Regions from separate parts of the Homo sapiens genome. Here region 2 is linked to region 1. A link means that fine-mapping ties the variant in region 1 to the expression of a gene that starts in the linked region. Tissue or cell type: testis. Region 1 holds a variant in brackets; the other region holds the start of a gene. All regions are shown on one strand. Distances are between the middles of the regions.

Region 1 (4,725 bases):
AAATCCTTAATAAAATCTCAGCACGTTGAATCCAACAAAATTCCTTTCTAAAGATTGTTAATACTACCCATTTCAGATTAAAGATTAGAGAATGGAGATTAAATGCCTATCATTTATTTAATGTTTTTTTATCTTTTTTTTGAGATGGAATTTCACTCTTGTTGCCCAGGCTGGAGTGCAATGGCGCAATCTTGGCTCACTGCCAACTTCTGCCTCCCAGGTTCAAGCAATTCTCTCACCTCAGCTTCTCAAGTAGCTGGGATTACAGACATTCGCCACCATGCCTGGCTAATTTTTTGTATTTAGTAGAGATGGGGTTTCACCACGTTGGTCAGGCTGGTCTTGAACTCCTGACCTCAGATGATCTACCCACCTCAACCTCCCAAGGTGCTGAGATTACAGGTGTGAGCCACCGCGCCTGGCCTATTTCCTAGGTAATCTTTTTTTTTTTTTTTTTTTTTTTTTTTTTGAGATGGAGTCTCTCGCTCTGTCATCAGGCTGAAGTGCAGTGGCACAATCTTGGCTCACTGCAACCTCTGCCTCCCGGGTTCAAGCAATTATTCTGCCTCAGCCTCCCAAGTAGCTGGGACTACAGGCGCACACCACCACGCCCAGCTAATTTTTGTATTTTTAGTAGAGATGGGGTTTTACCATGTTGGCCAGGATGGTCTCGATCTCTTGACCTTGTGATCCAGCCGCCTCTGCCTCCCAAAGTGCTGGGATTACAGGCATGAGCCACCACATCCAGCCAATATTTTTTGCATTTTTATTAGAGATGGGGTTTCACCATGTTGACCAGGCTGGTCACGAGCTCCAGACCTCAAGTGATCTGCCTGCCTCACATTCCCAAGGTGCTGGGATTACAGCCATGAGCCACACCATGCCTGGCCTGGTGTCCACTGTGTTTGATGGATGATTGAACTGAAAAAAAAAAAATTTTTTTTTTTTGAGACAGGGTCTCTGCTCTGTTGCCCAGACTGGAGTGCAGTGACACCATTTCGGCACTTCGGCTCACTGTAGCCTCAACCTCCCTGGCTCAGTGATCCTCCCACCTCAGCCTCCTGAGTAGCTGGGACTACAGCCTGTACCACCACACCCGGCAGGGTCTCACTATGTTACCCAGACTGATGTTGAACCTTGGGGCTCAAGAGATCCTCCGCCTAGGCCTCCTAAAGTGTTGAGATTACAGGTATGAGTTATCCCTGCTGGCCTAAACTGAAATTTGTTCAGATAATTCAAAGATCCTAATCAAAGGAGTGCACTTGCAGCTGGCTTGAAGCCCTGGAGTAGTAGTATGTCCAGCCACAGAGCCAGGCTGCAGTGACGGTAATGCTTCAGGAATCTATTCAATTTATTTCCTTAGCTCTAAAATTATGGCAGGCCAGGCACTGTGGCTCATACCTGTAATCCCTCAACTGTGTGAGGCCAAGGCAGGAGGAGTTGGATACCAGCCCGGGCAACATAGGGAGGTCTTGTCTTTACAAAATAATTAGCCTGGCATGGTGGTGCACACCTGTAGTCCCAACTATTCGGGAGGCTGTGGTGGGAGTATCACTTGAGTCCAACAGGTCGAATCTGCAGTGAGTGATCGCACCACTGCACTCCAGCCTAGGCGACAGAGGTCAAAAACAAAACAAAAGAAAACAAACAAAAAAAACATAGCAAACATCCAGAAGACTGTGTAGAGCAATGAATGTCTCTCAAGCCAGTGATCTTTTTCTCTTCATTTTTCACATCAGGTGGGTAGTGTGCCCACTTCGTAACAAGGTTTGAGGGAGGCACATTTGACACAAGAGCATGAAAACCCAATCACACTTATGACTTACAAAAGGATCAAGTCAGTGATCTTTAAGCTGTGGGCCATTAAATACATTTTGTGAGCCGAGTGCAGTGGCTCAGGCCTGTAACCCCAGCACTATGGGAGGTGGAGGTGGGAGGATCACTTGAGTCCAGGAGTTCAAGACCAGCCTTGGGCAACATACTGGGAACTCCCATCTCTATTAAATTTTTTTTTTTTAATTTTGTGGATTACAACCATTTCAAAAACTAAAATAAGCGTAAATGTATCAAAATGCAGCTTACATAGCGAGGATAAATGCTGTTTTGTCAATCTGTTGTTTCAAGTTTTTTATGTGTGGATTGGGTCACCTTGTAACAGTGACTTACCTTTATGGGTCACGGTTGAAAACATTTCCGGTGCAGTGGCTGACTGTAATCCCAGCACTTTGGGAGGCCGAGGCTGGAAGATCACTTGAAGCCAGAAGCCAAGAGTTCAAGACCTGCCTGGGCAACACGGCGACACCCCGTCTCTATTTAAAAAGAAAAAAAAAAGTTTCCAAGGCACTGAGATGCCAGGAACCCGAGGTGTGTGTCCAGTAGGGGAGGGAGCAAATTGG[G/T]CGTTTGGAAAAAGTCCCACGCCTGGAAAGGAATACACAGTGGGGGGGTGGGGGGCGGGGCACATCGACTACTTCAAGGCACACTCCCACGGTTCAGAAAACCGATTGGCTAAAACTGGGAAAGTCCCGCCCACAACGCTCACTGGCCAATGGCTGCGTGAAATCAGTGCGAAGTGGGCGGGATAGAGAGCGTGGGCGGGGGGGCTAGCCTCGTGCGGGCTCCTTAAGTAGCGGCTGCGTGGCTTCCCTGGCACGCTACTCTTACGACGTCACGGTCAGGTGGTGCAGAGCTGGACGGCAACGACGTCGGACGCGCCCCTTCTTGGAACAATGTCCCACCACGGAGGAGCTCCCAAGGCCTCTACGTGGGTCGTTGCTAGTCGGCGAAGCTCGACAGTGTCCCGAGCGCCAGAGAGGAGGCCGGCGGAGGAGTTGAATCGAACAGGTCCTGAGGGATATAGTGTCGGCAGAGGTGGTCGCTGGAGAGGCACCTCTAGGCCCCCGGAGGCCGTGGCCGCTGGTCACGAGGAACTGCCGCTGTGTTTTGCTTTGAAGAGCCACTTTGTTGGCGCGGTAATCGGTGAGAATGGGAGTGGCTGGCAGGGCAGGATAGGTGGGGCCAGGGGCGGAGCCTGGGCGAAGGCATTTCCTCCCCACTGCCTCACCTCCAATCAGCTGCCACCTAGTGAGGTTCAGGTCTCTCCCAGAGCTATTTGTAAAACCTGGGGATAGAGTATAATTTAATCTGGCCGGGCGCGTTGGCTCACGCCTGTAATCCCAGTATTTTGGGAGGCCGAGGCGGGCGGATCACCCCAGGTCAGGAATTCGAGACCAGCTTGGCCAACATGGCAAAACCCTGTCTCTACTAAAAATATATATATTAAAAAAAATAGCTGGGCGTGGTGGCGCGCGCCTGTAATCCCAGATACTCCGGAGGCTGAGGCAGGAGAATGGCTTGAACCCGGCGGCAGAAGTTGGCAGTGAGCTGAGATCGCGCCACTGCACTCCAGCCTAGGTGACAGAGCAAGACTCCGTCTCAATTAAAAAAAAAAAAAAAAAGTAATTTAATCCACCTTTTGGTGTTTATACAGACAATGTATTTGGGAGAGCAACTCCTAGAAGACTTATGAAATCTTAGGGCTGAAGAGGGATGCTTAGAACAGGCCTTTTAACAGACAGCTAACCCCAGAATGAAAAACAAAACTTAATCAGTCTTTCTATGAGTACCATTTAGAGCCAGAAATCAAAGAAAAGCTATAAGGTCATTGTAGGGCTGCCTAGAGCAGTTGTATCTTGCTTTTAGTTTCCTTAATTTTTAAAAAGTTAAAAACTTTTCTTACTACATCTTGAGTGTTAACATTCAATTCTGAATTTTTAATTTTTTTCTTTCTTTTGATTTTTTTTTTTTTTGAGGCAGCTCTGTGGCCCCAGCTGGAGTGCAGTGTGGCGTGATCTCGGCTCACTACAACTTCCACCTCCCGGGCTCAAGCGATTCTAGCACCTCAGCCTCCCTAGTAGCTGAAATTACGTGCGCCACCACACCTGGCTAATTTTTGTGTTTTTAGTAAAGATGAGGTTTCACCATATTACCCAGGATGGTCTCGAACTCCTGTGGATCCACCCACCTCGGCCTCCCAAAGTGCTGAGATTACAGGCGTAAGCCCGGCCCATTTCTGAATTTTTTTGAAAAGCATTTAAAAATGATTAGAATGATTACCCCATTGATTGCCATTAAGCCCGAGTATAAATTGCCACATTTTACCTATTAGGTGTATTTCACCCTTTTTAAAACCTGAGAAAAATGAATAGATGGAGGCTGCTACAAAATAGTGCATTGTAAGACTAATTGCTGTACTACCCAGAGACTCATTGGCCTTTCAGAAGGCTTGGGCTCAGATCTGAAGAATGATGCTCCAAGAAAGAAAGCCACTAGGTTTGCAATAAAAATCACTTAAGTTAATACTTAGCAGATGAAAGGGCACTGTGCTACAGAGCACTCACTTGATGTTGGATCTGGATCCATCTTTTTTATTGTAAAAAATGAAATACCCTCTTTTAAACGTATATCACAATACTAATAATAAGCACAATGTTGTATCCCAGATCTCTGGAACTTGCATGACTAAAACTGTATACTCATTGAACAGCTCCCCATTTTTTCCTGCCCCATCCCAGGGACCCACCATTTACATTGTTTCTGAGTTAGATTACTTTAGGTAATCCATATAAGTAGAATCATGCAGTAATTGTCTTTGTAATTGGCTCATTTCTCTAAGAATAATATCCTCCAGGCTTACCCATTTTGTAGCATGAGACAGGATTTTTTTCC
Region 2 (4,000 bases), 25 kb before region 1:
AAGGCAGGGCGCCATCCACGAGCCAAGGTGCCTGGGAACCCTGCTCTTCCGTGGTAAATCGAAAACTACCATTAATGAACGCTGACCGCCCAGGCTTGCTTCTTGCAACGTCATCCTCTGCCCAATGGATGCCCCACTCCAGGAAAACGCACAGCTGGTGCTCTTCGGGGGATCAATTACCAGCTTCAAAGTGAGAGCCTCAGATAAGCTGCTTTAGTAGTATGTGTGAGCTCATCAGAAATGAAATTTTAAGCCCCACCCCAAAAGTACTGAATCAGAATTCTCTGGAGAAGGAGCCAAGGAAATTGTGTTTTAACAAGCTCCCAAGGTGATTTCTTACAAGCTTTAAAGTTTGAGGACCAATTATGTAAAAACAAAACAGATCACCATTTGTGAGGTTATCTGCCCCTGCATATCCGCTCCCTGTGGGTGAGGGCCTCTCTCTGACCAGAAAATCATAAAAGGATTAGGAGTTTCAAAATGATGGGAATTCAGGAAAAAAAAACAAAAACAAAAACCTACAAAACTATCACCTGCCCACCCTTCATATCAAAACATGAGTGGGAGTCAATCTTTTATAAATTTGCTTTATTATAAGTGTGTGAAGATCTTAATGCTTTTGGCAAAATAGCCATTTCTTTATTAGAATAGTTCAAACTCACTCTTGCAACAAAATAAACCACAATCCATCAAGACACAGGAAAAAGGAATACGGGGATTTAAGAATGCTATACTTGCTTTTCTTCAACTTTAGCAGCAAAAGTTAGAAAGTTAAGATGTTCCCAACAGTAACTATGTTGTCTTAAGCAACAGGATCCTGGGGAGAGTGGGGGTCTGATGCATGGGCCTTCAAGTTCTTCTCAAGGTGTTTCATCTTCTCAGCTGGAAGAGAAGCAGTTGATACTAACCATGGACAGGGACAAGTGTTTGCTGTTTCGAACTACTCCGTGACTGGGAGTTGGGGAGGAGAGAAAGATCTGCGATAGTGCTGTAACCCAGGTGAGGCTGACTTGGGCAGTGATGGGTCTGAATCTATCAGATCTCTGCTGACTTTCCCAAGGTCCTACCCCAGGATCCCCTCCCAACAAACTTCGTACAGCTAGCTCCCTGGGGTCTGGAAACCAAGAAATTTTGAGAAGGTTAAGGGAGGATGGAAGGAAACCGAGCAAGGCCAGTATGGTCACTCGTGGCTTCCTCCACATGCAGGTTCTCAAAGACCCTCACCTCGGGCACGATGTTCTCGGTGAAACCATGCCAGGCACAGGAGCATGCTCTTCACCCGATTCTGTACACGGGGCCGCCCGAAAACGGTGATTTCGACTAGGTTCCCTGAGTCCACTATGTCCACTGTCAGCAGGGCCTGGCTCGTCCACTCCATTTCTGGAATTATGGCTCGGTCTGGGCCTAAACAAGTAAGGAAAAACTCTGAGGGGCTGCACGGTGGCAGGTTAGAAGCTGGATTTGAAGGGAATGTTGGCCAGGGAAGGGAAGAACTGGAAGGTGGGCATCACTGCAACACTCCTGGCTTGCGAATCTGGGAAAGAGACTGTAGAGAGCTGCTCTGCCAAGCCTCTCTCAGACTGGAGGTGGACAGCCCACTAGCACACCTGGGGTCGCTCACCAAAGAGCTCGTCTGCCAGCCATGCCTCTAGGTAGAACACCAAAGGGTCTCTCAGTTCCTGCACCGGAAACCACCAGGGCCGGATGCGAATCTGTGGCGGCGGAAGTGGTAACCTACGCAGCTGCTCCAGGGAGTGGGCCGGAGTCTGTTTGCCCCGCTGGGACTCAGCGGCACCAGCATCATCGACCATACTGGGACCAGCAGCCGCGGAGCGCGCTCGAGGCGGCTTTCGCAAGACCTCTTCCAGACCCAGGCGCGAAGCTCGGGCTCTCTTTTACCATATTCGACCCGCTCCGCCCCTTCCGGCGGCGCCTCGCACCGCGTCGGGGTGAGCGGGTGCAAGCGACGCCCCGGCATAGCGGCACCATTGGACACTTCCTGCGCTGCTTCAATCGCCGGGATTGCCTCTTTGACCTTGAACTAGTATTCATTTGGCCTCCTGTTGGGTCTCCAATGCTCTCCTTCGTCATCTCTGCTCGTAAGGTATGCTTAGCCTGAAAGTCCTCTGCCCACCTTATAGCTGATTAACAGTGTGAGTTTGAATTGACGACTCTATTAATAGACTGGGAATCACCTTTGCTGGCTAGGTTAAGGTTTCATCGTTGCCTCCCAAAGATAGGTATATCGGACCCAGGGCAGGCTTGTTCAATGTGTCAGTTTTCTCTGTTCTGCTCCCTGTTGTTATCTTCTGACTCTCCGGATGGTTACCATTTTTAAATCATTCAAGCAAGTGTGTCATGTTTTAAACAACACGTCAGAGGTGGTCTTATAGAACATGTAGCAAGTTAGACAATTTTCCTTTATTTCCAGTATCCTAAGACAACCATTATCGATGGACATTTTTTCCCAATGTTTGTAATTTTAATTAAAAATTTGGATTATGAAAGGTTTCACACATCCAAAAAAGTAATATAACACGGCCATGTACCCTCCCCGAGTTTAACAGATGTTGACATTTCCCCACATTTGCCTCACTCCTCTGTTTTTAAAACAGATATTACTCAAGCATCTTTCCTTTCCTTCTCCAGAGGAAATCATCCTGAAGCTAGTGTGTATATATCATCCCCATGCATGTCCTTACACATTTTCTACTATATTTGTAGAAATATTGTTTGGTTGTTTCAGAATAGTATCTGCTGAATATACTATTTCGTTCTTACAATTAACTATGTGTTTGTTTTAAAACTTCTATTTTTCTGAGATAGGTCTCACTCTCTTGCCTAGGCTGGAATGCAGTGGCACGATCTCGGTTCACTGAAGCCTCGACCTCCCAGGCCTAAGCGACCCTCCCATCTCAGCCTCCTGAGTAGCTGAGACCACAGGCACCTGCCACCACACCCAGCTATTTTCCAGCTCTTTTTGTTGTTGTTGTTGTTTGTCTGTTTGTAGAGACAGGGTCCCACTATGTTGCCAGGCTGGTTTTGAACTCCTAGGCTCAAGCAGTCCTCTCACTTTGGCCTCCCAAAGTGCTGGGATTACAGGCGTGAGCCACCACAGCCAGCATAGAAGAAAAAACTCAAAATAGTGAAAAGCATGTTCCAGACTCCACATGATCATCTAGGACTGTGTGGAGGTTCCAGTTTTCTGCCCCTGATCCCACCCCCTCTCACCCTCAATGGTTTCTGAGAAAACTTGACTATCAGGTGTGCAGGGCATACTTACAGGAAAACAAGATTTAGCTATGGCTCTGATGCAATAAACATTTAAAACCTTAACCTGGCCAGGCAAGGTGGCTCATGCCTATAATCCCAGCACTTCGGGAGGCCAAGGCAGGAGGATCACTTGAGGTCAGGAGTTTGAGACCAGCCTGACCAACATGGAGAAAACCGGTCTCTACTAAAAATACAAAAATTAGATGGGTGTGGGCCAGACACGGTCACTCATGCCTGTAATCCCAGCACTTTGGGAGGCTGAGGCGGGCAGATCACCTGAGGTCGGGAGTTCGAGACCAGCCTGACCAACATGGAGAAACCTAGTCTGTACTAAAAATACAAAAGATTAGCCGGACATGGTGGTGCATGCCTATAATCCCAGCTACTCAGGAGGCTGAGGCAGGAGAATCACTTGAACCCAGGAGGCGGAGGTTGTCGTGAGCCAAGATCACACCATTGCACTCCAGCCTGGACAACAAGAGCAAAACTCTGTCTCAAAAATAAAAAAAAATAAAAATAAAAAAATTTGGCCAGTGTGTGGTGGTTACCTGCAATCCCAGCTACTCGAAAGGATGAGGCAGGAGAATTGCTTGAACCCCAGAGGCAGAGGTTGCAGTGAGCCAAAATGGCACCACTACACTCCAGCCTGGGCTACAGAGTGAGACTCCATCTCAAAAAACAAACAAAAACCCCTTAACCTAATCAAGGCCAGATATTGTGGCTCGTG

What was found. PIP is the estimated chance that this variant, and not a neighbour inherited with it, causes the effect.
Region 2: it holds the start of OOEP, and the variant in region 1 is fine-mapped to the expression of OOEP in testis (GTEx, PIP above 0.99).

The regions. Positions count from the first base shown.
Region 1 is chr6:73,392,180-73,396,904 of GRCh38, forward strand. It overlaps DDX43 (DEAD-box helicase 43), which reads left to right and starts at 2,649. Exons shown (of 17, transcript NM_018665.3): 1 at 2,649-2,976. The coding sequence starts at 2,727. LOC124901538 (small nucleolar RNA U13) reads right to left here and starts at 1,834; the gene lies at 1,734-1,834. It also overlaps a transcript of OOEP not described here. RefSeq lists an enhancer at 2,266-2,766. The variant G/T (reference allele first, on the strand shown) is at 2,397.
Region 2 is chr6:73,367,982-73,371,981 of GRCh38, forward strand. It overlaps OOEP (oocyte expressed protein), which reads right to left and starts at 1,916. Exons shown (of 3, transcript NM_001080507.3): 1 at 1,622-1,916; 2 at 1,225-1,404; 3 at 574-882. The coding sequence starts at 1,811. The coding sequence ends at 803. It overlaps OOEP-AS1 (OOEP antisense RNA 1), which reads left to right and starts at 1,723. Exons shown (of 2, transcript NR_174946.1): 1 at 1,723-2,104.